Homo sapiens: one gene and its partners. The protein of the gene in region 1 interacts with the protein of each later gene in a biochemical or structural test. Each region holds a gene or a part of one and is shown in the gene's direction. Other genes may lie near its edges.

The links.
Region 2: the proteins of CDC25A (region 1) and YWHAQ form a complex in vitro, tested with the Homo sapiens proteins (2 studies listed by BioGRID, with this or other methods).
Region 3: of the proteins of CDC25A (region 1) and CHEK1, one has a biochemical effect on the other in vitro, tested with the Homo sapiens proteins (7 studies listed by BioGRID and IntAct, with this or other methods).
Region 4: the proteins of CDC25A (region 1) and CCNE1 form a complex in vitro, tested with the Homo sapiens proteins (2 studies listed by BioGRID).

The regions. Positions count from the first base shown.
Region 1 is NC_000003.12:48,156,157-48,164,909, reverse strand, and holds the end of CDC25A (M-phase inducer phosphatase 1), read left to right. Parts: intron 1-472; coding exon 473-603; intron 604-5,454; coding exon 5,455-5,566; intron 5,567-5,824; coding exon 5,825-5,965; 3' UTR 5,966-7,764; downstream 7,765-8,753. UniProt on the Homo sapiens protein: Tyrosine protein phosphatase which functions as a dosage-dependent inducer of mitotic progression. Directly dephosphorylates CDK1 and stimulates its kinase activity. Also dephosphorylates CDK2 in complex with cyclin-E, in vitro.
Region 2 is NC_000002.12:9,582,311-9,586,594, reverse strand, and holds the end of YWHAQ (14-3-3 protein theta), read left to right. Parts: intron 1-1,249; coding exon 1,250-1,309; 3' UTR 1,310-2,628; downstream 2,629-4,284. UniProt on the Homo sapiens protein: Adapter protein implicated in the regulation of a large spectrum of both general and specialized signaling pathways. Binds to a large number of partners, usually by recognition of a phosphoserine or phosphothreonine motif.
Region 3 is NC_000011.10:125,641,477-125,650,229, forward strand, and holds part of CHEK1 (serine/threonine-protein kinase Chk1), read left to right. Parts: intron 1-2,315; coding exon 2,316-2,424; intron 2,425-2,614; coding exon 2,615-2,792; intron 2,793-3,035; coding exon 3,036-3,167; intron 3,168-8,753. UniProt on the Homo sapiens protein: Serine/threonine-protein kinase which is required for checkpoint-mediated cell cycle arrest and activation of DNA repair in response to the presence of DNA damage or unreplicated DNA.
Region 4 is NC_000019.10:29,806,497-29,815,904, forward strand, and holds the start of CCNE1 (G1/S-specific cyclin-E1), read left to right. Parts: upstream 1-5,494; 5' UTR 5,495-5,656; intron 5,657-6,035; 5' UTR 6,036-6,059; coding exon 6,060-6,082; intron 6,083-6,192; coding exon 6,193-6,280; intron 6,281-6,472; coding exon 6,473-6,541; intron 6,542-9,408. UniProt on the Homo sapiens protein: Essential for the control of the cell cycle at the G1/S (start) transition.

The DNA.
Region 1 (8,753 bases):
TCTCAAACTCCTGAGCTCAGGCAAACCGCCCGCCTCAGCCTCCCAAAGTGCTAGGATTACAGGCATGAGCCACGGCGCCTGGCCTGCCATTTTAATGTTTTACCCGATTAATAGTGTTTAAATATAGTAAGGAGGTACTTTAAATACGATGTTACTGTTTGCCATTGTCTTGTGGCTTTTGAAAATCCCCAAATTTATAAAACTACCTATAAAGTGTACCATTGTCATATTTGAATTGCCCATTTCCAGTCCCCATGTGCATTACTGTATGATGAACGTGTACGGACCCACAAAGCTCCATTGAGATACAGGTGCCAAATGGTCTACTGGGCTATTCAGCTAGAAGAACTGCAAAAATCACAAACTGGTCTTGTGGACTTAAAGATCACTCTTGATGAATCATTACATCTTGCTGAATCATTACTTCATGTGTGAAACGTGCAGGTTCCAAGGGTCTCTGTTGTCTTCACAGGGTGCAGTGAACTTGCACATGGAAGAAGAGGTTGAAGACTTCTTATTGAAGAAGCCCATTGTACCTACTGATGGCAAGCGTGTCATTGTTGTGTTTCACTGCGAGTTTTCTTCTGAGAGAGGTCCCCGCATGTGAGTGCTGCACGGAACTGGGTTCTGGGGCACAGGCTCCATGATGCTTTTGTGGGACATGGTGGTTTGTGGCTTGCACTTGGAGCATATTTTAGCATATCAAGCAACCTCTGGCACATAACAAGCCATTTTCATATGTAATTTTATCCTGAGGTGAACTTTGGCTCTTCCAGTCTCCCCGACTGTCCTTAGTCTGATCTGTGGGGCTACTGTTCTCATGTGACCTCCTTCAAGTACAAAGTGACCGTTCCTTATGCAAATGCCAGAAAAGTGTGAAGTTCTCATTCTGTAAAACCTCATATGATATGATGCTTTGAAACACTTGATATTATTACCAATTTCAGGGTGAAAAGAAAAAAGGGGGCCAAAGAGCTGCCCATCAGTCATCTGTGTCCATTCTAAAAGGATTGCAAGCCTGCTGTTTGTCAGGCACTGACAATAAAAATGTAACTACAGTAAAACACAGTACAGTAAAAATACCACAGCGAGCAGGACCAACAAGGACCCTACTGCAGCAGAGATCCAAGTGGGGATCCGTATAAATGCTAGGAGGACAGGCAGAGAGGTAGGACAGAGAGTGCAGCTTAACTAGGATGGTCCAAGGGAGACTTCTGCAGGACCACGTTCTTATGCCACCTTTTTATTTTGAACCAATTTATTTTAAAAAACATTTTTAAATTAAAAAATTTCAATTTTTTTTTTTTGACGGAGTTTTGCTCTTGTTGCCCAGGCTGGAGTGCAGTGGCACAATCTCTTCTCACTGCAACCTCTGCCTCCCAGGTTCAAGCAGTTCTCCTGCCTCAGCCTCCCAAGTAGCTGGGATTACAGGCATGCGCCATCACGCCCGGCTAATTTTGTATTTTTAGTAGAGGCAGGGTTTCTACATGTTGGTCAGGCTGGTCTTGAACTCCCGACCTTAGGTGATCCGCCTGCCTCAGCCTCCCAAAGTAGTGGGATTACAGGCGTGAGCCACTGCACCTGGCTTTTTCTTTCTTTCTTTCTTTCTTTTTTTTTTTTTTTTTTGAGGCGGAGGCACACTGTTTTCACCCAGACTGGAATGCAGTGGCATGATCTCGGCTCACTGCAACCTCCACCTCCTGGGTTCAAGCGATTCTCCTGCCTCAGCCTCCTGAGTAGCTGGGATAACAGGCGTGCACCACCACACCCGGCTAATTTTTGTATTTGTAGTAGAGATGGGGGTTTCACCATGTTGGCCGGGCTGGTCTTGAACTCCTGACCTCAGGTGATCCACCCGCCTTGACCTCCCAAAGTGCTGGGATTACAGGTGTGAGCCACCACGCCCAGCAGAAATTTCAAATTTTGAGATGGGGTCTTAATATATTGGCCAGGTTGGTCTCAAACTCCTGGCCTCAAGCAATCCTCTCTCCTTGGCCTCCAAAGTGCTAGGATTGCAGGCATGAGCCACTGTGCCCACCCCTTTGAACCTTTTTTTTTTTTTGAGACGGAGTCTCGCTCTGTCACCCAGGCTGGAGTGCAGTGGCACAATCTCGACTTACTGCAAGCTCCGCCTCCTGGGTTCATGCCATTCTCCTGCCTCAGCCTCCCGAGTAGCTGGGACTACAGGTGCCCACCATCACGCCTGGCTAATTTTTTTGTATTTTTAGTAGAGACAGGGTTTCACCATTTTAGCCAGGATGGTCTCCATCTCCTGACCTTGCGATCTGCCCGTCTCGGCCTCCCAAAGTGCTTGGATTACAGGCGTGAGCCACTGCGCCTGACCTGAACCATTTTAAAGCTCAAGAAGAGGTGAGGTTATGGCTGGGCACAGTGGCACCTGTAATCCCAACACTTTGGGAGGCCGAGGCAGGAGGATCACTTGCTCGGGAGTTTCAGACCAGACCAACCTGGGTAACACAGTGGGACCACACCTCTACAAAAAATAGGAGGTGGGAGGATCGTTTGAGCCCAGCAGGTCGAGGCTGTGGTGAGCCATGATCATGCCACTGTACTCCAGCCTAGGTGACAGAGTGAGATTCTGTCTCTCTCTCACACACACACACACACACACACACACACACAAAGGTTATACTTGCACACACTTCACCTGATTTTATTAATTTTTAACATTTTGTCACATTTGTATGTACATGCTCTACACACAGGCAACTACAGTACAACTTGACACTTTTGACTGTCATCTCATAAGTCCTTCAAACATCTGTCTCCAAAGGATGCTCATTCATGAATGGAATTATTCACTCAGCAGTTTTTTTGTTTGTTTGTTTGAGATGTAGTCTTGCTCTGCCACCCAGACTGGAGTGCAGTGGTGCGATCTCGGATCACTGCAACCTCCACCTCCCGGGTTCAAGCAATTCTCCTGCCTCAGGCTCCCAAGTAGCTGGGACTACGGGTGCATGCCACCATGCCAAGCTAATGTTTGTATTTTTAGTAGAGACGGGGTTTTGCTACATTGGCCAGGCTGGTCTCGAACTCCTGACCTCAAGTGATCTACCCGCCTCAGCCTCCCAAAGTGCTGGGATTATAGGCCTGAAACAAACTAATCTGGACACACATACACACACATGTAAATTGTTTTTAAACCCACAAAAGATGCTGCTCTCTTTTTTTTTTATTTTTGAGTCAGGGTCAGTCTCTGTTGTCCAGGCTGGAGTACAGTGGCAGGAGCACAGCTCACTGTAGCCTCTGCCTCCCAGGCTCAAGTGATTCTCCCACCTCAGCCTCCCAGGAAGCTAGGACCACAAACATGCATCACCATGCCTGGCTAATTTTTGTATTTTTTATAGAGACAGGGTCTCACTGTGTTGCCCAGGCTGGTCTCAAACTCCTGGGCTCAGGCAATCCTGGCCTCCCAAAGTGCTTGGATTACAGGTGTGAGCCGCCATGCCCAGCCCAAAAGATGCTATTCTCTTAATCTCTCATTTCCCCATCTTCCTCTTTAACACCTCTAATATAAAGGACATTATTATACCATATTGAAACTTCACCTAGATATACAGAAAACGCCCCATCTCTGTATTCTGTATTTGCAAGCTGCATGTTTATATCACCATCTACAGATACCCCTTACACTTCGTTCCCCACTTGAGTTTCGCCATCACTGGCTTTCTGTTGTTCCACTGGGGAAAGATTTGGGATTCACAGGTGAACTCTTTTTTTTTTTTTTTTTTTTTTTTGAGTTGGAATCTCGCCCTTTCGCCCAGGCTGGAATGCAGTGGCACAATCTCGGCTCACTGCAGCCTCCTCCTCCCGGGTTCAAGCATTTCTCTGCCTCAGCCTCCCAAGTAGCTGGGATTACAGGCACCTGCCACCACGCCCAGCTAATTTTTTGTAGTTTTAGTAGACACAGGGTTTCACTATCTTGGCCAGGCTGGTCTCGAACTCCTGACCTCGTGATCCACCGCCTCAGCCTCCCAAAGTGCTGGAATTACAGGTGTGAGCCACCGCGCCCAGCCAAACTCCTTTTAACCACAGGCAAATGGTTTAAGCTACGTGCTGCAGAGGAAGCTGCTGCCCATCCCTCATGAGCAGCTAACAAAGGCCCCAAACCACTGAGCTTCAAGAGAAAATCAGCAGATACTCTTGGCTCTTGTGTACCAGATACCTTTCTAGATACTGAGGGAGAAGAGCAGTGAACAAAACAGACCAAAAAATCTCTGCCTTCATGGAACTTACATTTCGGAGTGGACAGGAGATCGAGACCAGCCTGGCCAACATGGTGAAATCCCGTCTCTACTAAAAATACAAAAATTAGCCAGGCGTGGTGGCGGACACCTGTAATCCCAGCTACTTTGGAGGCTGAGGCAGGAGCATCCCTTGAACCCAGGAGGCAGAGGTTGCAGTGAGCCGAGATCGCGCCAGTGCACTCCAGCCTGGGCGACAGAGTGAGACTCCATCTCAAAAAAAAAAAAAAAAAGGTGACTGGGTGCGGTGGCTAACTCCTGTAATCCCAACACTTTGGGAGGCCAAGGCAGGTGGATCACAAGGTCAAGAGGTCGAGACCATCCTGGCCAACATGGTGAAGCCCCATCTCTACTAAACATACAAAAATCAGCTGGGCGGTGGCACGCGCCTGTAGTCCCAGCTATTTGGGAGGCTGAGGCAGGAGAATTGCTTGAACCCGGGAGACGGAGATTGCAGTGAGCCTGAGGTCACGCCCTTGCACTCCAGCCTGGTGACAGAGTGAGATTCTGTCTCAGAAAAAAGAAGGTGCTTCAGAGGAAAATAAGGCCAGTGGTGGAGCTCCCAGGCAGGCTGGAGGAACAGTAGTGGGGCTGCAGGGGCTGGCGTGGGGTGAACAAGGGGCAGAGCAGCAGTAGGGGCCTGTAGAGCTGTAGGCCTCTGAAGGACTTGGGGCCTCGGGCTTTTTCACCAAGGGCGAGGCAGTAAGCAGCCATTGGCTGGATATTGAAGACCATTCAGTCCAAGTAGAGGATAGAAACAGGGCCCCGAGGCAGGAGCAAGTTCAGCCTCTTTAAAAGCCACAGAAAGAAACAAGCCCACTTATGTAGAAGGAGGTGAGTGAGGGAGCCTGGCTGAAGAGAAGGCTGGGGTGGAGAAAGCAAGGGGAAGCTGGCTCATATAGTGAAAACTTGCCACAAACTGTGGTGGTGAAGGTGCTGGGCAGGACTCAGATGCTAGGATTGTTGGAGAAAGGAAAATTGGGGAAGAGACCATCTACTGGCACTGGCTGTGAGTGCTGCTCATGTGGCCAGGAACTTGCAACTCAGCACTGATTGTTTCTAAGAATAAATGTCAAGTTGGGAAGATGTGTATAAGGGGGACTTAGACCACAACTGCTGCTTTGACTGCGTTGCCTTGTTGCTGTGCTGGAAAAGCTAACCCTGCTTTGGCCTTCCTTCCCCTGACTAGGTGCCGGTATGTGAGAGAGAGAGATCGCCTGGGTAATGAATACCCCAAACTCCACTACCCTGAGCTGTATGTCCTGAAGGGGGGATACAAGGAGTTCTTTATGAAATGCCAGGTAAGACTGGGGTTGTGGAGAGCATCTCTCCTCCCCTGCCCCCAGTGGTAGACTAATGGATCTGTCTGGTGGTCATGACTTTCTTTCCAGGGGTCGGGGGACAAGGTGGGTATCTGCTGAACCCAAAGAAAGCCCCTGTAGAACTGGCTCCCTAGGTCTGCCTGGCCGCTTTCAGCCTTGTAGCCCTAGGCAGAGAGGAAACCAGGTTGTGGGTGTGAGGCAGGTGTACCCTAACCTTATTCTCTCCTGTCCCCTCAGTCTTACTGTGAGCCCCCTAGCTACCGGCCCATGCACCACGAGGACTTTAAAGAAGACCTGAAGAAGTTCCGCACCAAGAGCCGGACCTGGGCAGGGGAGAAGAGCAAGAGGGAGATGTACAGTCGTCTGAAGAAGCTCTGAGGGCGGCAGGACCAGCCAGCAGCAGCCCAAGCTTCCCTCCATCCCCCTTTACCCTCTTTGCTGCAGAGAAACTTAAGCAAAGGGGACAGCTGTGTGACATTTGGAGAGGGGGCCTGGGACTTCCATGCCTTAAACCTACCTCCCACACTCCCAAGGTTGGAGCCCAGGGCATCTTGCTGGCTACGCCTCTTCTGTCCCTGTTAGACGTCCTCCGTCCATATCAGAACTGTGCCACAATGCAGTTCTGAGCACCGTGTCAAGCTGCTCTGAGCCACAGTGGGATGAACCAGCCGGGGCCTTATCGGGCTCCAGCCATCTCATGAGGGGAGAGGAGACGGAGGGGAGTAGAGAAGTTACACAGAAATGCTGCTGGCCAAATAGCAAAGACAACCTGGGAAGGAAAGGTCTTTGTGGGATAATCCATATGTTTAATTTATTCAACTTCATCAATCACTTTATTTTATTTTTTTTTCTAACTCCTGGAGACTTATTTTACTGCTTCATTAGGTTGAAATACTGCCATTCTAGGTAGGGTTTTATTATCCCAGGGACTACCTCGGCTTTTAATTTAAAAAAAAAAAAGAAGTGGGTAAGAAAATGCAAACCTGTTATAAGTTATCGGACAGAAAGCTAGGTGCTCTGTCACCCCCAGGAGGCGCTGTGGTACTGGGGCTGCTGCTATTTAAGCCAAGAACTGAGGTCCTGGTGAGAGCGTTGGACCCAGGCTTGGCTGCCTGACATAAGCTAAATCTCCCAGACCCACCACTGGCTACCGATATCTATTTGGTGGGAGGTGTGGCCCTGTTCTTCCTCACCCCAGTTCCATGACATTGGCTGGTATAGGAGCCACAGTCAGGAAAGCACTTGAGGCAGCATCTGTTGGGCCACCCCCGGCTCAGTGCTGGAATGTTGCAGTGTAGGTTTCCCAGGGAAGGGGGGTGGGGGTAGGTGGGCTCCACAGGATGGGGGAGGAGCATGTCCACTGAGTATCTTCCTTATGTTGCTGTGATATTGATAGCTTTTATTTTCTAATTTTTAAAAAATGGTCATATTATGAGTCAAAGAGTATCAAATCAGTGTTGGATGGACCACCCAAGGGTGAGGAGAGGGGCTGGAAGCCCTGGGCATTAGGAGAAGGGAGTGGGTGCTGGCATGGACATGACTGGATAGAATTTTCTCAGGAGGGAGCTTGGTGGATTTTGAAGGTAAAACTTTCTGGGTTTATCATGTTTTAATTTTAGAGACAGGGAGTGATGAATCATCACCGGTTGTCCCCTTATCTAACTCCATAAAAGTGGGAATTTCAAAAGAACACCTCATCCAAGGAGCTGGGGCAGACTTCATTGATTCTAGAGAGACCTGTTTCAGTGCCTACTCATCCCTGCCCTCTGGTGCCAGCCTCCTTACCATCACGGCTTCACTGAGGTGTAGGTGGGTTTTTCTTAAACAGGAGACAGTCTCTCCCCTCTTACCTCAACTTCTTGGGGTGGGAATCAGTGATACTGGAGATGGCTAGTTGCTGTGTTACGGGTTTGAGTTACATTTGGCTATAAAACAATCTTGTTGGGAAAAATGTGGGGGAGAGGACTTCTTCCTACACGCGCATTGAGACAGATTCCAACTGGTTAATGATATTGTTTGTAAGAAAGAGATTCTGTTGGTTGACTGCCTAAAGAGAAAGGTGGGATGGCCTTCAGATTATACCAGCTTAGCTAGCATTACTAACCAACTGTTGGAAGCTCTGAAAATAAAAGATCTTGAACCCATGCTCTCTGCCTAGTTCTTGATGGATTTAAGGAGAATTACATTTCCCTTTAAGGTCCTGGGACCACATTAACTAAAATTAGTGTTTGGGATGGCCACATTTCCTCAAGAAGCTCTGACTCCAAAAACTTGTGGTTCAGATTGATTTGCAAGATGAAATGGGTGCATAAAAAGTGTGCCTGAGGCCAGCCGCAGTGGCTCATGCTTGTAATCCCCGCATTTTGGGAGGCCGAGGCAGGCAGATCACTTGAGGCCAGGAGGTCAAGGCTGCAGTGCCCACACATAATGTGATGCTGGGGGCTACTGGGGACAAAATATATTGGGCTGAAGCACAGAGGGACGCCCAGAATAGAAAACACATGGTCCTTTAGGTATGGGTTGGAAAACCAGGGGTTCAGGCATATTTGATTATATTATATATACATATATTTTTCTGAGACAGTCTCACTGTTGCCCAGGCTGGAGTTGCAGTGGTGTGATCTCGGCTTACTCCAGCTTCGACCTTCCAGGCTCAAGCAATCCTCCCACCTCAGCCTCCCAAAGTGCTGGGATTACAGATGTGAGCCACCATGCTTTTTAAAGTTTACTTTGAGCAAGTAATATTTCCCTGGATTGCTGCAAAGGTCAGCTGGCTTCCTGTCTGATCTATCCTTCCTAAAATTGCAAATTAAGTCAACCCATTATTGAGAATTTAATTTTTTTTTTTTTTTTGCCTGTAAAATGAAACGACCTCTTTAGCCCGTATGCTAAGATGCAACCTCATCCTTAGCCTCTGCTCATTTTATGCTTCACTGAGAGGTCAGGATTCTGTTTCTAGAATGCCCCTGCTCTCTGAAACTTGCTTGTTAGAGCTTGAAGCCTGCCATGCAGAAAGTTTGCATTTACTATAGAAAAATTTATGTGTGGACACCCACAAGGTCAAGAGTTGGTTAACTCAAAACCATGGGCAAAACTTAACTCACTTTAAATTTTGGGGAAAACTATTCCATCCAAGGTGTGATCTGATTCAGATTTTAAAAATTTA
Region 2 (4,284 bases), on another chromosome or scaffold:
TTGTGAGGGGACAATGGAAGATGATCAGCAAATAGTTCTACAGAGGAAGAGCAAATTAGGCAGTTATACCTCTTCCCAGATGTATACCTTGGAGCTAACTATCTTTTAATCGGTTTTGTTTTGTTATCTCTATTATGGAGACAGGTCTTTGGGGGATTTTGTTTTGTTTGTTTTTATTTAGTATCTTCATAATAATCTAAGGATTATGTAAGATTCTGGCTTTTCTGAAATTAACACTAATGTCTTGCTGTTGGTCTAATAAAGTGCAATTATAGTCAATAAATACTGACTTCTCTTCTTCACTTCATCTTCCTATCCTAAAATCAGAGAGATCCTGGAAGATCCACTTAGTTTTAACATTCTGTCTAATTCAAGAACCCTGTCTATACATGCACACATTGCTTCCCTGTAGCTTCCATCACCCACTTCTATTTAATTCTTGGAGAAACACAAAGTAAGTCTGCTTTTCCTATAGTTTAGCCCTTCACACACTTGAAAATTGTTAACCATGATTGTGGCTTTTTCCTCCCTGTGAAAATGTTTTGCTTTATTAGTCTGTAATAATAATGCAGTAGTGCTTTCAAGAAGAGCATTGGGCTGCTGGGAATAGAGACTATCACTTTGCTTATTCTGAAAGTAGAGTGCCTTTTTAAAAAAGTTTCTCTTTTTTTTTTTTTTTTTTGAGAAAGGATCTCACCCTGTTGCCTAGGCTGGAGTGCAGTGTCATAATCATGGATCACTCCAGCCTCAACCTCCTGGATTCAAGCAGTCCTCCTGCCTCAGCCTCCTGAGTAGTTAGGACTGTAGGCACACACCACCCCGTACCTGGCCAATTTTGTTTTTGAAATTTTTTGTAGACGTGGGATCTTGCTATGTTGTCCAGGCTGTTGAACTCCTGGCCTCATGCGATCTTCTCATCTTGGCCTCCCTACGTGCTGAGATTACAGGCGTGAGCCACTGTGCCTGGCCAAATGCTTTTTAAATAAAAAGGAAGCTATAAAACCATGCTCCAGTGGTATATGTATGTATGTATGTATGTCATTTTGTAAGTGCATAGTGAAAGGTCTGCAAGGATGTACTTTGGGAAGGTGATGGTCTTTGGGGTTTTGAGAGAGAACTTCAGTCTTAGTCAAGATCTCCATTGTTTGAGGAATTTACTACTCTTGTAGTTAATTTTGATATAACAATACTACTTAGTGTAATTGCCTAATCTAGAAATAGTAACTTAATATGATTCTTCTTTTTCTAGCTTTGGACATCAGACAGTGCAGGAGAAGAATGTGATGCGGCAGAAGGGGCTGAAAACTAAATCCATACAGGGTGTCATCCTTCTTTCCTTCAAGAAACCTTTTTACACATCTCCATTCCTTATTCCACTTGGATTTCCTATAGCAAAGAAACCCATTCATGTGTATGGAATCAACTGTTTATAGTCTTTTCACACTGCAGCTTTGGGAAAACTTCATTCCTTGATTTGTGTTTGTCTTGGCCTTCCTGGTGTGCAGTACTGCTGTAGAAAAGTATTAATAGCTTCATTTCATATAAACATAAGTAACTCCCAAACACTTATGTAGAGGACTAAAAATGTATCTGGTATTTAAGTAATCTGAACCAGTTCTGCAAGTGACTGTGTTTTGTATTACTGTGAAAATAAGAAAATGTAGTTAATTACAATTTAAAGAGTATTCCACATAACTTCTTAATTTCTACATTCCCTCCCTTACTCTTCGGGGGTTTCCTTTCAGTAAGCAACTTTTCCATGCTCTTAATGTATTCCTTTTTAGTAGGAATCCGGAAGTATTAGATTGAATGGAAAAGCACTTGCCATCTCTGTCTAGGGGTCACAAATTGAAATGGCTCCTGTATCACATACGGAGGTCTTGTGTATCTGTGGCAACAGGGAGTTTCCTTATTCACTCTTTATTTGCTGCTGTTTAAGTTGCCAACCTCCCCTCCCAATAAAAATTCACTTACACCTCCTGCCTTTGTAGTTCTGGTATTCACTTTACTATGTGATAGAAGTAGCATGTTGCTGCCAGAATACAAGCATTGCTTTTGGCAAATTAAAGTGCATGTCATTTCTTAATACACTAGAAAGGGGAAATAAATTAAAGTACACAAGTCCAAGTCTAAAACTTTAGTACTTTTCCATGCAGATTTGTGCACATGTGAGAGGGTGTCCAGTTTGTCTAGTGATTGTTATTTAGAGAGTTGGACCACTATTGTGTGTTGCTAATCATTGACTGTAGTCCCAAAAAAGCCTTGTGAAAATGTTATGCCCTATGTAACAGCAGAGTAACATAAAATAAAAGTACATTTTATAAACCATTTACTATGGCTTTGTAACAATTGCATACCCATATTTTAAGGGACAGGTGAATTTACTACTTTCTAAAGTTTATTGATACTTCCCTTTTATGTAAAATGTAGTAGTGATACCTATATTTCCACATTGTGCATTGTGACACACTTGTCTAGGGATGCCTGGAAGTGTATAAAATTGGACTGCATTTCTTAGAGTGTTTTACTATAGATCAGTCTCATGGGCCATCTCTTCCTCAGATGTAAATGATATCTGGTTAAGTGTTATATGGAATAAAGTGGACATTTTAAAACTAGCAAAGTTAATTATGTGATTGTGAGTGCCTTGGCTGTTATTAGAATTGTGCTTCAGTGGATATTCAAAAGGAATGTAAGAGTTCAGACACAGATACTCCTCAACTTAAAATGGGGCTACACCCTGATAAACCCATTGCAAGTTGAAAATACGAAGTCAAAACTGCACTGAATACACCTGACCTAATGAACATTATAGCTTAACCTATCCTACATTAAATGTGCCCAGAACACTTAGCCCTACAGTTGGGCAAAATCAAAGAACATGAAGCCTACTTTATACTAAAGCGTTGGATCTCTCAGGTAATTTGTTGAACACTGAAAGTGAAAACCATTGATTGTATAGGTACTTGAAGTATGCTTTCTACTGAATGCCTGTCATTTCCACACCATTGTAAAGTCAAAAAATTAAGTTGGGGACTCTATGCTTCTGTTTGTAAACATTCAATCTTACTATTAGTGAGTTCAAAATAATTTTGGTTTTATAGTATCACAATAGCTATTATTTTACTAACCAATCTCAGATTAGTAAAATAACTGAGACTGAATGACTTGAGAACTGATTTTTAAGTCAGAAGATAATCTGAAAAAATAGCTATGTAGGATTCTTCTTGATCCTAAAATGTGAATATGAAACAAGGCTTCATTTATAGTTGTTTTCTTTTCTTTTCTTTTTTCCCTTTTTTTTTTTTTTTTTTTTTTTTGAGACAGAGTTTCACTCTGTTGCCCAGGCTAAGAGTGCAGTGGTGCGATCTTGGCTCACCACAACCTCCGCCTTCTGGGTTCAACAGATTCTCCTGCCTCAGCCTCCCGAGTAGCTGGGATTACAGGCACCCGCCACCACACCCGGCTAATTTTTTTTATTTTTAGTAGAGACGGGGTTTCACCATGTTGGCCAGGCTGGTCTTGAACTCCTGACCTCAGGTGATCCACCTGCCTGAGCTTCCCAAAATGCTAGGATTACAGGCATGAGCCACCACGCCCGACCTATACTTGTTTTCTAAGGGGAAATGAAAAGGCAGAATTCAGTAGGACTCTGGTATCCCAAAATTTAAATCAGGACACTACTTTTTAAATAAAAATCATAGTAAAAATAACATTTTGAATTGAGAAAAAATGATCATTTCTTAAGACCAGTAAAATGGTATGTGCTGAGTAATGAATTATGTTATCAAAGTGGCCTTAAAGAATAGATTATTTTCTAGCCAGGCGCGTTGGCTCATGCCTGTAATCCCAGCACTATGGGAGGCTGAGGCGGGCAGATCATTTGAGGTCAGGAGGTCAAGACCAGCCTGGCCAATATGGTGAAACCCTGTCTCTATTAAAAATACAAAAATTAGGCTGGGCACAGTGGCTCACACCTGTAATCCCAGCACTTTGGGAGGTTGAGGCGGGTGGATCACTTGAGGTCAGGAGTTCAAGACCAGCCTGGCCAACATAGTGAAACGCCATCTCTACTGAAAATACAAAAAAATGGCTGGGTGCAGTGGCTCACGCCTGTCATCCCAGCACTTTGGGAAGCCGAGGTGGGTGGATCACAAGGTCAGGAGTTTGAGACCAGCCTGGCCAACATGGTTAAACCCCATCTCTACTAAAAATAGAAGAAAAGTAGTGAGGCATGGTGGTGGGCACCTGTAATCCCAGCTACTCAGGAGGCTGAGGTAGGAG
Region 3 (8,753 bases), on another chromosome or scaffold:
TTTATATCAACCTAGACCTTTCCTCTGAATTCCAAACTTACATGTCTTAACTGCCTTCTGAAATTTCACTTGAATGTTAAGAGGCATCTCACACTTGATGAATTCCAAACTGAGTTACTGATCTTTTCCTTTCAAACCCATTCCTTTTCAAAGTCTTTCCCATGTTGGTTAATGGCAACTGCATTATTCTTATTATGCAGATCAGAAACTTTGGAATCATCCTTCATTTTTCTCATTCTCTTTTACTTCACATCCAGTACACCAGCTAATTCTGTTAACCTCTATCTTTAAAAAAATCTTAGAATCTGATTACCTTTTTTTTTTTTACCTCTACTGTTACCCTATCATTCCAAATTACCATGATATCTTTCCAAAATGTTCTGATTTAAAAGTGAATTAGAATATATCACTATTCTACCCAAATCCTCCAATGCTTTAGTTCTCACGTGTAGTGTAAGCTAAAATCAGTTCATGACCTGTGAGTTCTTACACAATTTTGTTCCTTACATTACCTCTCCAACCTCAGTTCTGCTTTGCTCCCCCTTGGTCATATTGTTGTTCTTCTTATTGTTCTCCAAGTGCTCTAGGCACACTTCTACCTCACTGTTTTTGTAGTGACTGTTCCTATGTCTGAAAATGCTTTTTCCCATGGGACTTATTTGCATGTCTTATTCTCTTACTTTCTTTGGATATTGACTTCAGTGTCATCTTTCCAATAAGCCTTTCCTGGCCATGCTATTTAAAATGGTATCCTCTTCCCTCTAACACATTTCTTAAATTTTTAAAATTTTTACTCTCTTGTGGACATACGCAATCCAACACGTTTCTTCATTTTATTTTCCTTCAGTGTACTTACCACCATTTAGCTTACTGATTTTTAACTGTATTTGTATTTATTTTATGTTATTTTGTCTCTCCTCAGTAGAATGTAGGATTTAAAAGGTCAAGAGTTTTTTTTCTATTTTGCTCACTGCTGAATACCTGATACCTAGAATAATGCCTGGCACAGAGTAGACCTAATAAAATATCTGAATGAATGGATTAATAAATAAAAAGCAGGTTTAAAAAAAAACTTGAGCATGTTTAAAAAGAAACAAACTTAAGCATGTTTAAGTGGTTTGGGTACGGATCCTGTAGAGAGGAAGAGGCTGACAGTCTAAGAGAAAGGAAATAAATAACAGAGGATCAAGATCCCTAAGGAGGTAGAAGGGTATGGGCTCCAGAGCACAAGTAGAGAGATGAACATTTGATGGGAGAATGGAAGGGATGAAAAGATGTATAATAATACAAATAACTTAGCTTTGGTAGGGATAAGTTGATGTAGTTTCTGTCTAATGGCTTTATTTTTTCTCTGAAATGGGAGGTGGTAGTATAGGTACTGGATGGTAGTCTTGGGAATTACAGAAAAGTGTAGTTTTGAAATGATCCTTGTGGAGAAAAGGAAAGGAAACTAGAGAAACAAATATTATCTGGCAATATTGAGGTTTAGCTAGGGATTGTAACCATAAATTTACAGTGGCGTCATTTTCCATATAATATTCTTCTTTATAAAGCTTTTCCAAGGAATCAAAGAATGTTGGCTATAGCAGATTCATAATGTTTATTGCTATTATCATAAATTATTTTTTATTTTAAAAAGTTCTAGTCCTTTAGCCAGGTCTGTTGTCTTCATAGAACATTGTTCTGTTACCCATAAAAGATGCCATTAAGACTGTGGCCTGGGCCGGGCGCAGTGGCTCACGCCTGTAATCCCAGCACTTTGGGAGGCCGAGGCGGGTGGATCACGAGGTCAGGAGATCAACACCATCCTGGCTAACATGGTGAAACCCCATCTCTCCTAAAAATACAAAAAAAAAAAAAAAAAAAATTAGCTGGGCGTGGTGGCGGGTGCCTGTAGTCCCAGCTACTCAGGGGGCTGAGGCAGGAGAATGGCGTGAACCCTGGAGACAGAGCTTGTAGTGAGCCAAGATCGCGCCACTGCACTCCAGCCTGGGTGACAGAGCGAGACTCCGTCTCAAAAAAAGAAAAAAAAAAAGATTGTGGTCTGAGCATACTCCACACTTTGAACATGTCTACAGATCATACTTAGGTATTGTAAAATACCTAATTTGACAAATGAGTTTTAGTAATTTTATAACTTGGCCATATTTTTTATAAAATCATATAGGAAGACTTTGTTTTATATCTTACAAAAATTTTGTGTTAAATAAATAGATTTAGACATAGTTTTACTTCTTCAAGTTGCCAGTTGGGTTAATTTAAAAACATACTTGCATAGAAGACTTGAAAGCATTTGTATTTGTTTTCTTTTTTAGGGGCAAAAAGGCCCCGAGTCACTTCAGGTGGTGTGTCAGAGTCTCCCAGTGGATTTTCTAAGCACATTCAATCCAATTTGGACTTCTCTCCAGTAAACAGTGCTTCTAGGTAAGACTGATAAAGATTGAGTAGTTTTTGATTGTAGTATTCCCCATGAAGAATAATACATGTATGTGTTTTTTCATAATAATCGACATTAACATAATACTGTAAGCATGAGAACTTGTGTGTGATATAAGAAAGGCCTGATAGATTTTATTTTATTAAATGTATGTTTCTTTCTGTCTTAATGCCTCAGTGAAGAAAATGTGAAGTACTCCAGTTCTCAGCCAGAACCCCGCACAGGTCTTTCCTTATGGGATACCAGCCCCTCATACATTGATAAATTGGTACAAGGGATCAGCTTTTCCCAGCCCACATGTCCTGATCATATGCTTTTGAATAGTCAGTTACTTGGCACCCCAGGATCCTCACAGGTGAGGGAATTTAATTTTTTAAAAGTAATGGCAGCTCTTTATTTTTTATTGTCTTAAAGTCCTTTTTTAATGTGTAAATCTTAGATATATAACTTTTAAATCACATGTATTCTTTTTTGGTCAAGGAAGAAAGAGAGGAGGGAGGCCTTCATGCAAAATAATTTTAAGTCAGACTAAATAGCTATGATATTACTGTCTTTAGTCCTAATGGATTTATTCATTTGTCTTCTGTTTGACATGTAGAACCCCTGGCAGCGGTTGGTCAAAAGAATGACACGATTCTTTACCAAATTGGATGCAGACAAATCTTATCAATGCCTGAAAGAGACTTGTGAGAAGTTGGGCTATCAATGGAAGAAAAGTTGTATGAATCAGGTGTGTTTCATTGATTTTCATTATACCTTTTCCTGAAGAAGAATTTAAATATTTGAGTAAAAGCTATCATTAGTATATTTTTTAAATATAGGCTGTGGCTCACACCTGTAATCCCAGCTTTTTGGGAGGCTGGGGTGGGCGGATCACCTGAGGTCAGGGGTTCGAGACCAGCCTGGCCAACATGGTAAGACCCTGTCTCTACTAAAAGCACAAAAATTAGCCGGCCTGGTGGTGCATGGCTGTAATCCCAGCTTCTCGGGAGGCTGAGGCACGAGAATTGCTTGAACCTGGAAGACGGAAGTTGCAGTGAGCCGAGATCCTGCCAGTGCACTCCTGCGTGGCCAACAGAGTGAGACTGTCTCAAAGAAAACCAAACAAACATAAAAATACAAAGTAATTAGTTAATTTGAAAAAGAAACTATTTAAGTAAAATGTTCTTTACTTTAAGAAATAATACTTTTTTTTATTTTGTTTTATTTTTTAATTTTTAATTTTTAGCCACTGTGCCTGGCCTAAGAAATAATATTTCTTAAAAGACCTTTTTATTGTTATTAAAAATAGTAGGGAGCTGGAATCATTATCTTTGTAAAAACTATGTATACTTAAACTGTAGACAATAACAGTTGACTGCCTACTATGAAAGACGAATACATTAGCAATCCCACACTTTCTCCCATCTCCCTTGATTGCACCCGTCAATTTTTATTGTTTATATTATTAGAGCATAGTTATAACATTGGTATTCTAAACTGTCTTTAAGGCTTTTCAAAAAAAATGTTAATGTCAATGAAAGACAAATAGGGTAGCTGTTTTTTACTCAAGGAGACTAAAGAGGCCTGATAACTAAGTGCAAGTGCAATGCATGATCTTTCACTAGATCATGTATTTGAAAAAAACTATAACGGACATTATTGGAACAATTGGGGAAATTTGAATATGGACTGTATATTAATTAGGTAATGTTTTTGTATCAGCGTCAGATTTCTTGGGTGTGATAATACTGTGGTTTGTAGGAGAATGCCCTTGTTCAAAGGAGAACAAGTGTCAAAGCAAAGTTGAAGTGAAGTGATATTTTCATTCAGCTTAAAATTTAAAAAAATAAAGGGCAAACAACTACATAAAGGCCAATAAACACACACATATCTGGTAGATAAGGCCAATGAAGAGTATATGGTTATTTATTATACTCTTTTTTCAGTTTTTCTGTAGATTCGAGTTTTCAAAATTAAAAATTGGGGGAACTGTTACTGTGTAGAAATCTGAGGTCAGCCTGATAGTCTTCTCACTCACATAGGTGATTCACTTTCTTTCAGGTAGACTCAGAGATAAAATTTGCATAACATAAGAATCATCACTTTAACCATTTTAAAATGTAAAATGCAGTGCTTTTTAGTATATTCACAAGGTTGTGCAACCATCGCCCCTAATTCCAGAACATTGCATCACCACGGGGAAAAAAAAACAAAACACCTCTGTACCACCTAGAATCACTCTTTATTCCTTTCTTGCTCCATTCCCAGACAACCTCGAATCTACTTTCTGTCTTTAGGGATTGCCTTTTTGGACATTTTATATAAATGGAATCATATAACATGTAGTCCTTTGGGTCTGTCTGCTTTCATTTAGCACGTTTTCAAGGTTCATAGCATCTATCAGTACTTTATTCCTTTTTATGGCTGAATAATATTCTGTTGTGTGTATGTATTACATTTCGTTTATCCATTCATCCACTCATGGACATTTGGGTTGTTTCTACTTTTTCATCATTATGAATAATACTGCTGTGAACAATCTTGTACCAGTTTTTGTGTGACCATATGTTTTCAATTTCTTAGATATATATGGAGGAATAGAATTGTTGGAGCATATGGTAACTCTTCATTTAACTTTTTGAGAAACTGTGAAATGATTTTTCCAAAGCACCTGTACCATTTTACGTTCCCATCAGTAATGTAAGAGGGTTCCAATTTCTCTACAACCTTGCCAACACTTACTGCCTCCCCTTTTTGCTATGGCCATCCTAGTGTGTATGAAGTCTTATCTCATTTTGCTTTTGATTTTCATCTCTCTAAAGACTAATGATCTTGAGCATATTCTTATATGCTTATTGGCCATTTCTTTATAACAGTATCCGGATATTTTGTCCATGCTTTAACTGGCTTGTTTTTATTGTTGAGTTGTTAGAGTTCTTTTACATTCTGGACACTAGAACCTTGTCAGGTACCTGATTTGCAAATATTTTATCCCATTCTGTGGGAGAAAATTCCCCCATTCTTTTGTTTTCTTGTTAGTGTCGTTTGATGTACTCAAGTTTTAGATTTTGATGAATTCCAGTGGATCTATAATTTCTCTTTTGTTGCCTATGCTTTTAGTGTCAAATTTAAGAAACTGTTGCCTGATGTAAGATTGTAAAGATTTATACTTTATGCTTTCTTTTAGGAGTCCCAGCCTCCTAAGTAGCGGGGACTACAGTCTTAAAGTTTAGCTCTTATATTTAGGTCTTTGTCCATTTTGAGTTAATATTTGTATATAGTATGATGTAGGGTGCAAATTCAAATGTTTGTATGTGAATATTCAGATTCCAGCACCATTTGTTGAAGATATGTTTTACTATTAGATGGTCTTGGCACCTTTGTTGAAAATAAATAGGTCATAGATGTATGGGTTTATTTCTGGAATCTCAATTCTTTTTTTTTCCTTTTTTTTTTCTTCCCCTGTGGACTCAATTCTTTTATTTCATGGATCTATATGTCTGTGCTATGCCGTTACCACACTATGTTGATTACTGTAGCTTTATAGTGAATTTTGACATTAGAAAATATGAGTTGTCCAAGTTTGTTCTTTTTTTCAAGGTATTTTGGTTATTTGTGGCCCCTTGTTTTTCTGTCTTTTAGGATTATCTTATTTCTGCAAGAAAAAAATTTGGAATTTTAAAAGAGATTACATTGGGGAGTATTTCCATTTTAGTATATATTGAGTATTCTTTATTCAAGGTGCTTGGGACCAAAAGTTTTGTGGATTTTACATTTGTTTGGATTTTGGAATATTTGCATATGCATATTGAGATAACTTACAGATGGGACTCAAGTTGAAACATGAATAATTTTATTTATGCTTCATATATACCTGATACAGATAGCCTGAAGGTAATTTTATACAATGTTTTAAATAATTTTGTGCATGAAACAAAGTTTGTACATTGAACTATCAGAAAGCAAACCTGTCAGGTATGAAATTTTCAGTTTGTCACATGATGTCAGCACCTGAAAAGTTTTGGAGTTTGGAACATTTTGGATTTCAGATTTGAGATTAAGGATGCTAAACCTCTAATAGTAACTCTTCTAATCCAATAACATGGGGCCTTTTTTTTCCCATTTTTTTAGGGTCTTTAATTTCTTTCAAGAATATTTTGTAGTTTTCAGTGTTCAAGTCTTGCACTTCCTAGGTTAAATGTAATCCTGTTTATTCTTTTTTTTTTTATCCTGATGCTGATGTAAATGGAATTTTTTAAAATTTTATTTTCAAATTGTTCATTGCTATATGCAAATGAATTTTGTATATTGATCTTGTATCCTGAAAATTTGCTGAATTCATTAACTCCAGTAGTTTTTTTGACAAATTCTTTAGGTTTTTTAATATATTAAGATTACATTATTTGGCAGGGCGTGGTGGCTCACGCCTGTAATCCCAGCACTTTGGGAGGCCGTTGCGGGTGGATCATGAGGTCAAGCGTTTGAGACCTGCCTGGCCCACATAGTGAAACCCCGTCTCTACTAAAAATACAAAAAATTAGCTGGGCGTGGTTGCGGGCACCGGTAATCCCAGCTACTCGGGAGGCTGAGGCCGGAGAATCACTTGAACCTGGGAGGCGGAGGTTGCAGTGAGCCGAGATGACGCCACTGCACTCCAGCCTGGGCGACAGATCAAGACTCCGTCTCAAAAAAAAAAAAATTACATTGTTTATCAATAGAGATACAGGAAATTGTTTTACTTTTTTTTTTTTTTTTAACCCAGATGCCTTTTAATTCTTTTTGTTTAGTTGTCCTGGCTAGGACTTCCAACATTATGTTGAACAGAAATAGAGTCTTTGTCTTGTTCTTGATCTTAGGGTTAAGTTTCGAGTCTTTCAGCATTAAGTATGATGTTAGCTGTGGGGTTTTTGTTTTTATGGTGAAAGAGTATTGGATTTTGTCAAATGTTTTCTCCGTCTATTGAGATAATCATGTGGATTTTTTTTCCCTTTATTAATATAGCTTGACCTCCTGTGCCCAAGTGATCCTCTCATCTCAGCCTCCTAAGTAGCTGGGACTACAGGTGTACACTATCATACCCAGCTAACTTTTTAAAAATGTTTTTGTAGAGATGCAGTCTCTGTGTTTACCAGGCTGGCCTTGACCTTCTGGGCTCAAGTGATCCTCCTGAGTAGTGGGTACTACAGGTGTGCACCACCATGCCCAGCTAAATTGACAGTTTTCATCAGTCTGTTTATTTTGTCTAATGTTAGTATATCCACATCAGCTCACCAGCTATCTTGTGTATTTTCCTTTTTTTAGATGGAGTCTCACTATGTTGCCTAGGCTAGACTGTAGTGGCTACTTAAAGGCACGATCATAGTGCAATGCAGCCTCAAATTCCTGGGCTCAAGTGACCCTCCTGCCTTGGCCTCCCAAGTAGGTGGGACTGCAGGCATGTACCACCATACCCAGCTACCAGCTCTCTTTTGGTTATTGTTTCCATGGTCTATTTTTTTTTTCCTTTTCCTTTTAACCTATTTGTGTCTTTGAATCTAAAGTGCCTTAGCCAGGTGTCATGGCTGACACCTGTAATTCCAGCACTTTAGGAGGCTGAGGTGGGTAGATCACTTGAGGCCAGGAGTTTGAGACCAGCCTGGCCAACATGGTGAAACCCCATCTCTACTAAAAATATTTTAAAAATTAGTTGGGCGTTGTGGTGTGCACCTGTAATGCCAGCTATTGGGGAGGCTTTAGGTGGGAGGATAGTCTGAGCCATTGGAGATCAAGGCTGCAGTGAGTCGTGATCTGATTGCATGACTGCTCTCCAGCCTGGGTGACAGAGCAAGACTGTCTCAAAAAAAAAAAAAAATCGCTTCTTAGCCTTTTGGCTAAGATCAAGTGTAGTATCTATTCCTATCAGTTTAAGTGCCTTAATTTCTCTTCCACTTTTTGGACAGGTAGTTTTGCTGGATATAGAATTCTTATTAGCTTTTGTCTTTCAGCACTTTGATTATGCCACTACTGCCTTCTAGCCTTTGTGGTTTCTGATGAGAAATCAGCTGTTAATCTTACTGAGGATCTCTTTTATGTGAGACGTTGCTGCTCTCTTGCTGCTTTTATGTTTCTCTGTTGACCACAGTTTGACTATGGTGTATCTTGGTGTGGATTTCTTTTTTCATTCTGTTCGGAGTTCGTTGAGCTTCTTGGATATGTAAATTAATGTTTTTAATCACACTTGGGAAGTTTTTGGCCACAATTTCTTCAGATTTTTTTTTTTATATCTAACTCTCCTCTCCCTCTTGGACTCATTATGTTTATTGTTGGTATACTTGATGTGCCACAGTTCTTAGAC
Region 4 (9,408 bases), on another chromosome or scaffold:
TCCCAAAATGAGATTTAAATGAAAGCTGAGGGTATGGCAGTCAGACACAGAACAGAACACTCTTGTGTGTTAACTGGTGCTGAGAGGGTAGCTTCCTGCTGCGTATCTGCCCAGCCACCCCCACCTCCCCAACCTCATCACACACTCCCACTCTTTCAAGCATCTTCAAATTAGTCTCTGCCCTTTTTTTTTTTTTTTTTTTTTCCAGAGACAGGGGCTTGCTGTGTCACCCGGGATGGACTGCAGTGGTGAGATCACAGCTCACTGCATCCTTGACCTGCAGTGATCCTCCTGCCTTCGCCTCCAGAGTAGCTGGGACTACAGGCGTGCACCACCATGCCTGGCTTATTTTTCTATTTTTTTGTAGAGATGGGGGTCTTGCTTTGTAGCCCAGGCTGGTGTCAAACTCCTGGGCTCAAAAGATCCTCCCACTTCGGCCTCCCAAAGTGCTAGGATTACAGGTGTGAGCCACTGTGCCCACTGCCCACCCTGTCTCTACTCCTTACAACCCTGAAGTTAATACAGAATCCAAAAATGTCAGCTGCCATCATTATCCTATCATACACTAAGTTAAAAGGCCAATTTTAATTTTCCCTGGAAGTTTTCATTGGTCACAGCCTCCATCTGAAGAAGCGATGGCTAGGCTTGCTCCCCAATGTAAGAGGAGGTTAGGCCGGGACAGAAGCACCCTTTCACTGGTTTTCATCCTTCCCACCTTGGTGGCTTTACACAGCAGTGTGCGCTGGTTCTGAGCAGGAACCAAGCCTTGGGGAGCATGGGTTGGGCCCTTGCCTGGCTGGCTGGGGGGCCTGTGCAGGCAGATTGTCCCGCCCAGGGAGGACAGGAGCCAAGCCTCCAGGGCTTTCCCATGCTCACGTTCCCTGGCGCTGGGCCGCAGACACTCTGTGGTTGACAGCCTGGTCCTGTTCATCTTGCCCGGCTCCCACTTCACAGCTCACACTGGTATAGTGTGGCCCCCTCCTCTTCTAGTATTTCCATGTGTAGCCTCACAAGATAACTGGCTCATCCAGGTGGCCACAGATGTCCAGCTTGGCCCCACAGCAAGGCCTTAGCCAGCTCCACTGCCAGCCACAGCCCACACCTTCCCTGATCAACCTTTGCTAGCAGCGGGGCTCTTTAATTGTCCGCTAAGACGCCTTTGAGGACCTGGTAGAAGTTAGGCTCCAGCTGCCTGGGGAAATGCACATGGGCCCAACAGTAGGCAGGCTCCTGGGTCTCCAAAGGCTGTCCAGGGATCCCATGTTAAGGAATCCTATCTGGGAAGGACTTCCCCCTTGCAATCCCTTGGTCTTCCTTCTCCTTAACCTTTATGTCCTGGTGCCCGTCCTCCATCATCAGAGCCTGAACCATATAGGAAGCTAAGCAAATAACCCCCAAATCTCTTTATGAGTAATAACAACACAAATTGAGCAGTTACCTTGTGCCAGATACTGTTGAAAACACTTGAGGGGTATTAATACATTTACCCCTCACCGCAACCCCATGACGTTGGGACAATTAGAATTATACCCATTTTACAGATGAGAAGATTAAAGCACAGAGAGGTTGGAGAACCTTCCCAAAGTCTCATAGCAAAGGGGAGGTGTTGCCCTCCCTACACAGCAGCTGGTTCACCACCTCTGATGCAATCCACAGTCTCCCTCAAGGCTGGGCCAATGCTCGGGAGCTCTGGACTTGAGGCAAGCACAGAATGGAATGAACCCAAACACCCAAAGGTGAGCTGCCCTAGAAAGGCGGACATTGGGCCGGGTGCGGTGGCTCATGCCTATAATCCCAGTACTTTGGGAGGCCCAGGTGGGCGGATCACCTGAGGTCGGGAGTTTGAGACCAGCCTGGCCAACATGGTGAAACTCCATCTTTACTAAAAATACAAAATTAGCCAGGCATGATGGCACATGCCTGTAATCCCAGCTACTTGGTAGGCTGAGGCAGGAGAATCGCTTGAACCCAGGAGGCGGAAGTTGCAGTGAGCTGAGATCGCGCCATTGCACTCCAGCCTGAGCAAAAAGAGCAAAATTCCGTCTCAAAAAAAATAAAAATGAAAACAAAAGACATCAGTGGTTTCTGAAGACTCCAAGCTGCTGTATAGGCTGTGTCTGCCATCTTGGACACAACTTTTCTATTGTTCCTATTAAATGTGTTCATCCTTCTGGCTTACATGCCATTTTCTTCATGCAAACTTCTTGCCATCCAAGGATGGGTTGGATACATCCTTCTCCACATGAAGTCATAGCCCCAAGACTCTTCCCTTCCCAGCCCTATCATGCTACACTGCAAATGCATGACAGCCTCCCTTCCACACCGGAAGCTCCCAAGAGGGCAGGGATTGTGTCTTGCTTTGCTATGTCTTGAATTAAAAAATAATAATAATAATTATTGGCTGGGCGCAGAGGTTCACACCTGTAATCCCAGCACTTTGGGAGGCCAAGGAGGGAGAATCACTTGAGGCCAGGAGTTTGAGATCAGCCTGGCCAACATAGTGAAACACTGTCTCTATTAAAAATACAAAAATTAGCCGGGCGTGGTGGCAGGCGCCTATAATCTCAGCTACTTGGGAGGCTCAGGCAGCAGAATCGATTGAACCTGGGAGGCGGAGGTTGCAGTGAGCTGAGATAGCGTCATCACACTCCAGCCTGGGCAACAAGAGCTAAACTCCGTCTCAAATAATAATAATAATAACAACAATAATAATAAGGCCGGGCACAGTGGCTCACTCCTGAAATCCCAGCACTTTGGGAGGCCAAGGCGGGCGGATCACGAGGTCAAGAGATGGAGACCATCCTGGCCAACATGGTGAAACCCCGTCTCTACTAAAAATACAAAAATTAGCTGGGCGAGGTGGCGCATGCCTATAATCCCAGCCGCTCGGGAGACTGAGGTAGGAGAATCACTTGAACCCAGGAGGCAGAGGTTACAGTGAGCTGAGATCGCGTCATTGCACTCTAGTCTGGACGACACTCTGTCTAAAAAATAAATAATAATTATTATTATTATTTAATTTTTATTGAGTAAAAGATACATTCAGTAAAGTGCACAAATCCTAGGTGTGAACTTTTATGTATGTATCAATCAATGAGCTTTTATGTATGTATACAGTCATGAAACCACCACTCAGATCAAAGCATACATGTCTAGCCCCTAGAAGTTTCCCCTGGTCTCCTCCCGGTCATTACTCCTCACCCTAGGGGTAAATACTGTTACGGTGACTGCTGTCTTTTCTTAAACTTCAAATAAATGGAAACTTCAAATAAGTGTGTCTGGCTTCTTGGGCTCAACATGTTGTCTCTGAAATTCTCATGTTGCTGCATGATTCCTTGGTTTGTCCTTTTTATTGCTGTGTGGTATTCCATTGAATTAATATAACAACATTTATGTATCCATTCTATTCTTGATGAACATGTCAGCTAGGATGTGGAGGATTTGGGCTCTATCTTTGCTGGTGGGTGTATACATTGCTGTAATGACTAAGGAAAACTGTCTTGTCTACCATCATTATAATAACTCATTTAGTGAGCATTTACTGTGTGCCAGGTACTGTACAGGAGTCAGCTACATTATCTCAATCTTCACAATGATCCTTGGGAGTAGATAGTTGCCATCTGTGAAACAGGATAATTGTGGCATCAACATGAATAGGATTATTGTGAAGTTTAATTGAGATGATACTTTGAAGGACTTAGCCCAGTGCTGCCATTTTGGAAACACTGTTTATGATACCTGTTACTGGTGATTCCTAACGGGCACAGGATGGGGGGTTCAGGTGCCTGGGTCCCTGCTGAGCAAGTAGCCCAGCAGCCTTGGCCTCAGAGCACCTGGGGGAATCATGAATTTGTGAGCCTCTTTGATAAGACCCTGGCTCTAACTTCAAGAAAACGGTCACTAGGGGAGGGTGAGGGACAGGACTGAGACTTTAGCTTAAGAAGGGCCCTGGGAGCATTCCAGAGCCTTCTTTTACGCACATCTTCCTGAAGCTGAGTACAGAGGGTACTCTGAGGTGATGACTGTTCCTTACCTGTCTCTCTCATTAGCCGGTAAGCCCTGCAAGGGCTTGGCCAGTGCCTGTCTTTCAAATGTTCATTCAGAAACAATTTAAGTGTCTCCCTTGGTCCAGGCACTATGCCAAGAACTGACAGATACAGCAGTGAGCAAGATGGGCAAGGTGGGGAGAGAGACAAGAAACAGAGAGGCACCAAGACTGTGTAGGGGCTGGGCTCCCAGCACTTTGGGAGGCCAAGGCGGGAGGATCGCTTGAGCTCATGGGTTTGAGACCAGCCTGAGCAACATAGCAAGACCCTATCCCTACCTGCCACCCCCCACCCCCCGCCACAATAAAAAATACAAGTCTTGAGGGAGAAAGGACAGAGGAGCTGTGGAGAGGAGGCCTGAGGTCTGAGGGTGGGGGATCAGGGTCAGGTCCTGTGGAGCCTGTAGCCTAGGACACGGAGTGTGGATTTGACCCTTATGCGAAACAACTGGAAGGCTTTTTGTTTCTTTTTCTGTAGAAATGGGGGTCTCACTGTTACCCAGGCTGGTCTCGAACACCCCAAGGGATCAGCCGTCTCGGCCTCCCACAATGCTGGGATTAAAGGCGTGAGCCACCGCGCCCGGCCTCAACTGGAAGGCTTTAAGTGAGAGATGGGGTGCAAGGGAATCCCAGAGTCAGAAAGGTCTTCAGAGAGCCAGGAAGGGCTTGCGGGGGAGGGGCGCATATGGAAGGGGCGCATGGAAGGAACTCACAGATTCCTTGAATGAATGAATGAACGACCCAATGCACTGACGGATGAATGGACAGGCGGCCAGGAATAGCAGCCGGCCCCCAGGGAGCCCCAGACCCCGCGGCCTGAAGCCTTGGTTCTAGGCCAAGGCACAGGCGCGGTGACCTTGGGGATGTCCCCGCCCAGGACTCAGGGCCCGGAACTCGGCGTCTCGGGGGCGGGGAGGGCGTGCCTGGCGGGACAGCGCGCGCGGAGGAACGGCGGGCGGTGCTCCTCGGGTAGGCCCCCCACACATCCCCTTGGCTCAGCCCTGCCGGGGCCCGAACCCGCGCCGCCCGCCGTGTTTACATTCCACCCGCGCCAGCCACGCGGCTTTTTGCCGCTCCAGCGCCGCTCGGCCCCGCCCCCGGCGCCCGCGGCCCGCCCCTCGCCGCCGCGCGCCAGACTTCTCCCGCGTCCCGCCCGCCGCCCCGCCCCGCGTCCCGCGCCCCGCGCCCCGCGCCCGGCCCTCGGCGCGCAGGCCCTGTCACTTGGCCCCGCCCTGTCCGCCGGCCCCGCCCCTGATTCCCCGTCCCTGCGCCTCGCGGGCCGGCGCCGTGGAGGGGCGGGTCCGGGGGCGGGGCGAGGGACGGGGCGGGACGGGCTCTGGGTCCCGCGCGGCCGCTGAGGGGCTGGGAGCCGCGGCGGGGCGGTGCGAGGGCGGGCCGGGGCCGGTTCCGCGCGCAGGGATTTTAAATGTCCCGCTCTGAGCCGGGCGCAGGAGCAGCCGGCGCGGCCGCCAGCGCGGTGTAGGGGGCAGGCGCGGATCCCGCCACCGCCGCGCGCTCGGCCCGCCGACTCCCGGCGCCGCCGCCGCCACTGCCGTCGCCGCCGCCGCCTGCCGGGACTGGAGCGCGCCGTCCGCCGCGGACAAGACCCTGGTGAGTCTACTGCCGCGGGCTGCGGACAGGGACTCCTGGGGCCCAGACCGCGCCGGGGAGCTGGGTGGGGGCGGGGTGCGGCCGGGTCGCGGGTCCCCGGGCGGCGTCGCGGGGCGCCCGGGAGGGTGCTGAGAGCGCGGCGGGGTGGGGTGGAGGGGACACTGAGGCAGCCCGGGCCCCGGGAGGCGACGGGCCGGTGAGGGCGGCGGGGGCGGCGGGACCCCGGGTCGGGGGTCGGCGGGTGCCCGGGTCGCGGGTGACAGGCCACCCCGCCATCGGCCATCTTCCTGGCTCGCCCGGCCGCCCGCGCGCAAAGGGGGAAGGGGTACTGGGCCCGCGGCCTGACCCCGCCGCCGCCTCACCCCGCGCCGCCCCGCAGGCCTCAGGCCGGAGCAGCCCCATCATGCCGAGGGAGCGCAGGGAGCGGTGAGTGCCCGCGCCGCGGGGCCGGACGGGACGGGACGGGACGGGACGGGTGGCGTGGGGGAGGGGCGGCCGCGGGTGCTCACCCGGCCCGGTGCCACCCGGGTCCACAGGGATGCGAAGGAGCGGGACACCATGAAGGAGGACGGCGGCGCGGAGTTCTCGGCTCGCTCCAGGAAGAGGAAGGCAAACGTGACCGTTGTGAGTACAAAAGAGACAGGTTGGGGAGCATCCCCCCCATCTCACCTGGGTACCCGACTTGGCTCTGCCTACGGGGGCGGGGGTCCCTTGGGCAGGAACGGAGCTCATAACCTGATCAGCTTTCTCTTCTTCTCTCTGTTTTTGTCTTGTTTGGTGTGTTTCCTTGGGGTCATGGGGGTGGCTTCATGTTAGTTTTTGCAGGATCCAGATGAAGAAATGGCCAAAATCGACAGGACGGCGAGGGACCAGTGTGGGAGCCAGGTAGGTCCGCCCGGGGTTGGGCCTCTGTGGAGGTCCTTCTCCCCCTGGGTCACATGGGGTTTCATGCTGTCTTGTCTCTTGCTGGAGACACTCTGGTGAGAGTGAACTTCTCTAATGCAGCCACAGCCCATATGGCCCAGCACTGTACCTGTCAGTGGGCACTGGCCTCTGCCAGTCCTGGGATTCCAGGAAGCTTGGTGTTCCTGACTGGCACCGTCTGAGATTACAGATATGTGCCTAGCCTGGAAGAACCAGAATGGACATCACAGTATTCAGTCCTCCCCTTCTGCCCAGGAGGAAACTGAGACTCAGTTAGAGGAAGAAAGTAACCCAGAGTCCTGTGCCATCCAGGGGCAAAGTTGGGCTCTCGGCCTTGTCTGTAAAAGCTGGTGAACTGGGGGAGGGTTCCTGGGTGTTTATAAGCAACAACTTTCCCCCTATCTACACCTATTTTTCTTGTCATGGTGTTTAAGGACCTCCTCCGTCTTCTGTAGGTCAGATTTCAAATTCTTCTCCTCTTTCTGGCCCTGGAAGTTCTTATAGCCCCTCCAGCAATTACCTGCATTGATCCCCAGCTCAGCCTGACCTCAGCAAGAGTATCAGTGGAACATTCAGTGTAATGATAGGTGGTGTCTCAATACATTTTTTTTTGACTGCTTTTCTTTTCTCTCCTTAAGGAGTTCCTGCCAAATTTCCTGCATGCAGTGTGATAATCATTATAATATCAGAAGTTTCTTGCAGAAAAAGCTTGTACTATCTCTTTACTTTCAGAAATGGCTGGAGACTGTAGTTATGGCTCCAGTGGGGGAAGCAGCCTATCTCTAAACTAGCTGGTCAGGCCTTCTGACTCTATCACAGATAAACGCTGAACAGAAACAGTGTTCGACCTGAGTGCAGGGATCCCAGCTAGGTTAGCAGAGAAGCCCCTCACTTTGCAGAGCAGCAGCCAGGGTAGTTCATCTGGAAGCGTGAAGGGTTTCAACGCAGTGCGCCGTGTTCTAAATAGCAGTTGTCACTGCATGTAAGGTCCCCCGAAATAAGCATTTCTGAGGAGGGTCCACTGACTATTGAAGAAAGGGTTGCTGATTTCCTTTTTCATTCAAAGAAATCATTTCAGAGACGGAAATGAGACGGCATATCCCCAGTTTTTTTTTTCTTCCCTTAAAGTACATTCAAATCAAGCAAGTTGATTTTTTAGGTATTATAAAATGAATTCTGACTTTGTGAAATTCAGGACTGTTTATTTTCCCAGCTGTGTTTTGAATAGAAAAGAAACTTCCAGCTGAAGATGAAGCAGGGCCGTCCCTGTTGCATTCTTGGAGTTTTAGAAGCATGTCTGTTCTCAAGGATAGCCTGAGCAGTGACGAGGGTGCCTCCTGGGACGGATTGTGGCTCTGTCCCCTGGCCACAGTGTGGATAGCTGTGCTGCCGGAATAGCCATACCATTTCCCACTAGAAGGCATTTTCGTGGTTATCCAGAGATTAATGGCGACAGATTTCTATACGTTTTGTAGAGTAGATAGCTTAAACATTAGCTGTCTATGTATGGAGCAGTATCTTTGTTATTTCTTTGTGGAGCTTCATGAAACTAGAACTTGGGGGTACAACAGAACCTTTTTCCCTGCTCACATACAGAATTTTTCTCTGGAGTTATCATAATTCCCCCCAGTACGACAGTCTTGAGCTACTTGGAGCCATTGTGCCAAACTCTTGTGTAACTGCTTCATCGAGACCACATGGAAGCTTTTTAATTTTCATCTTAGGCTGTTCTTAATGAAAAGAATACCCTTTTATCTAAGATCTACTTAACACGTCCATTTTGTTGTTTAATTTTTTTGCACAAGACTCAATCTTTCTATTGAAGTGGAATCCTGGACTGTTACTTTTCAGAAAATAATCCTATGTAAGGAAAAAAGTGGTATGAGGAGTTGGAGTGGTTAGGAATCCCGTGGGTCTCTTATTGTTATCTCATTCTTTCCTAAATAAAGTCAGACAGATCTTGCTTTGAAACTTGGTGTACACTCAAGGACATAGACTTAATTATTCTACCTCATCCACTGGTCCCTAAAAAGGCCAACTTTGGAAACCATTTGTCTGCTGATGGTTCACCTAGTTTGGGAACTGCTGCTGGACTCATCTATGTCCAAAGGCCTGCTCTCAGATGTGCCAGCCATCTGGCTGTAGAGGGTGGCACCCAGCATTATGCCTTCAAGACTAGAATTCATTCTTCCTGAATGAAGAACAACTTACAGCGGTTGTAATGTGACCCTTTTTGAGTTAAGGAAATGCCACCCGCACATGGTACTAGAACTGAAAGGAAGCAGCCTTGCTCGCACAGCTGTTGGCAGGAGCTGTCATGGATAATTTGCATGCCCAATTCTTTGTACATTGGGTGGGGAAGAGCTTTATCTGGCTTTGCTCTTCTAACTGAAAGTGCTTGGGCTTCCTCTGAAGGCGGCCAATGTGTTGTGGTCGCCACCATGTGCTGTGTCTTCGAGGTAGCACTTACAGCCCGAGTTTCCACTTTCATTTATAGTGACCCCAGTTGTCTATTTTGTTCTTTAGTCAATGTTAATGGTCTCTGCTTTTTTTTTTTTTTTTTTGGGGGGGGGACAGAGTCTTGCTCCGTCACCCAGGCTGGAGAGCAATGGCGCGAGCTCGGCTCCCTGCAACCTCCGCCTCCCAGGTTCAAGTGATTCTCCTGCTTCAGCCTCCCGAGTAGTTGGGATTACAGGCGCCCGCTACCACACCCGGCTAATTTTTGTATTTTTAGTAGAGACGGGGTTTCACCAGGTTGGCCAGGCTGGTGGTCTCTGCTTTAAAAAAAAAAAAAAATGCCAGGTGCGGTGGCTCAGGCTTGTAATCCC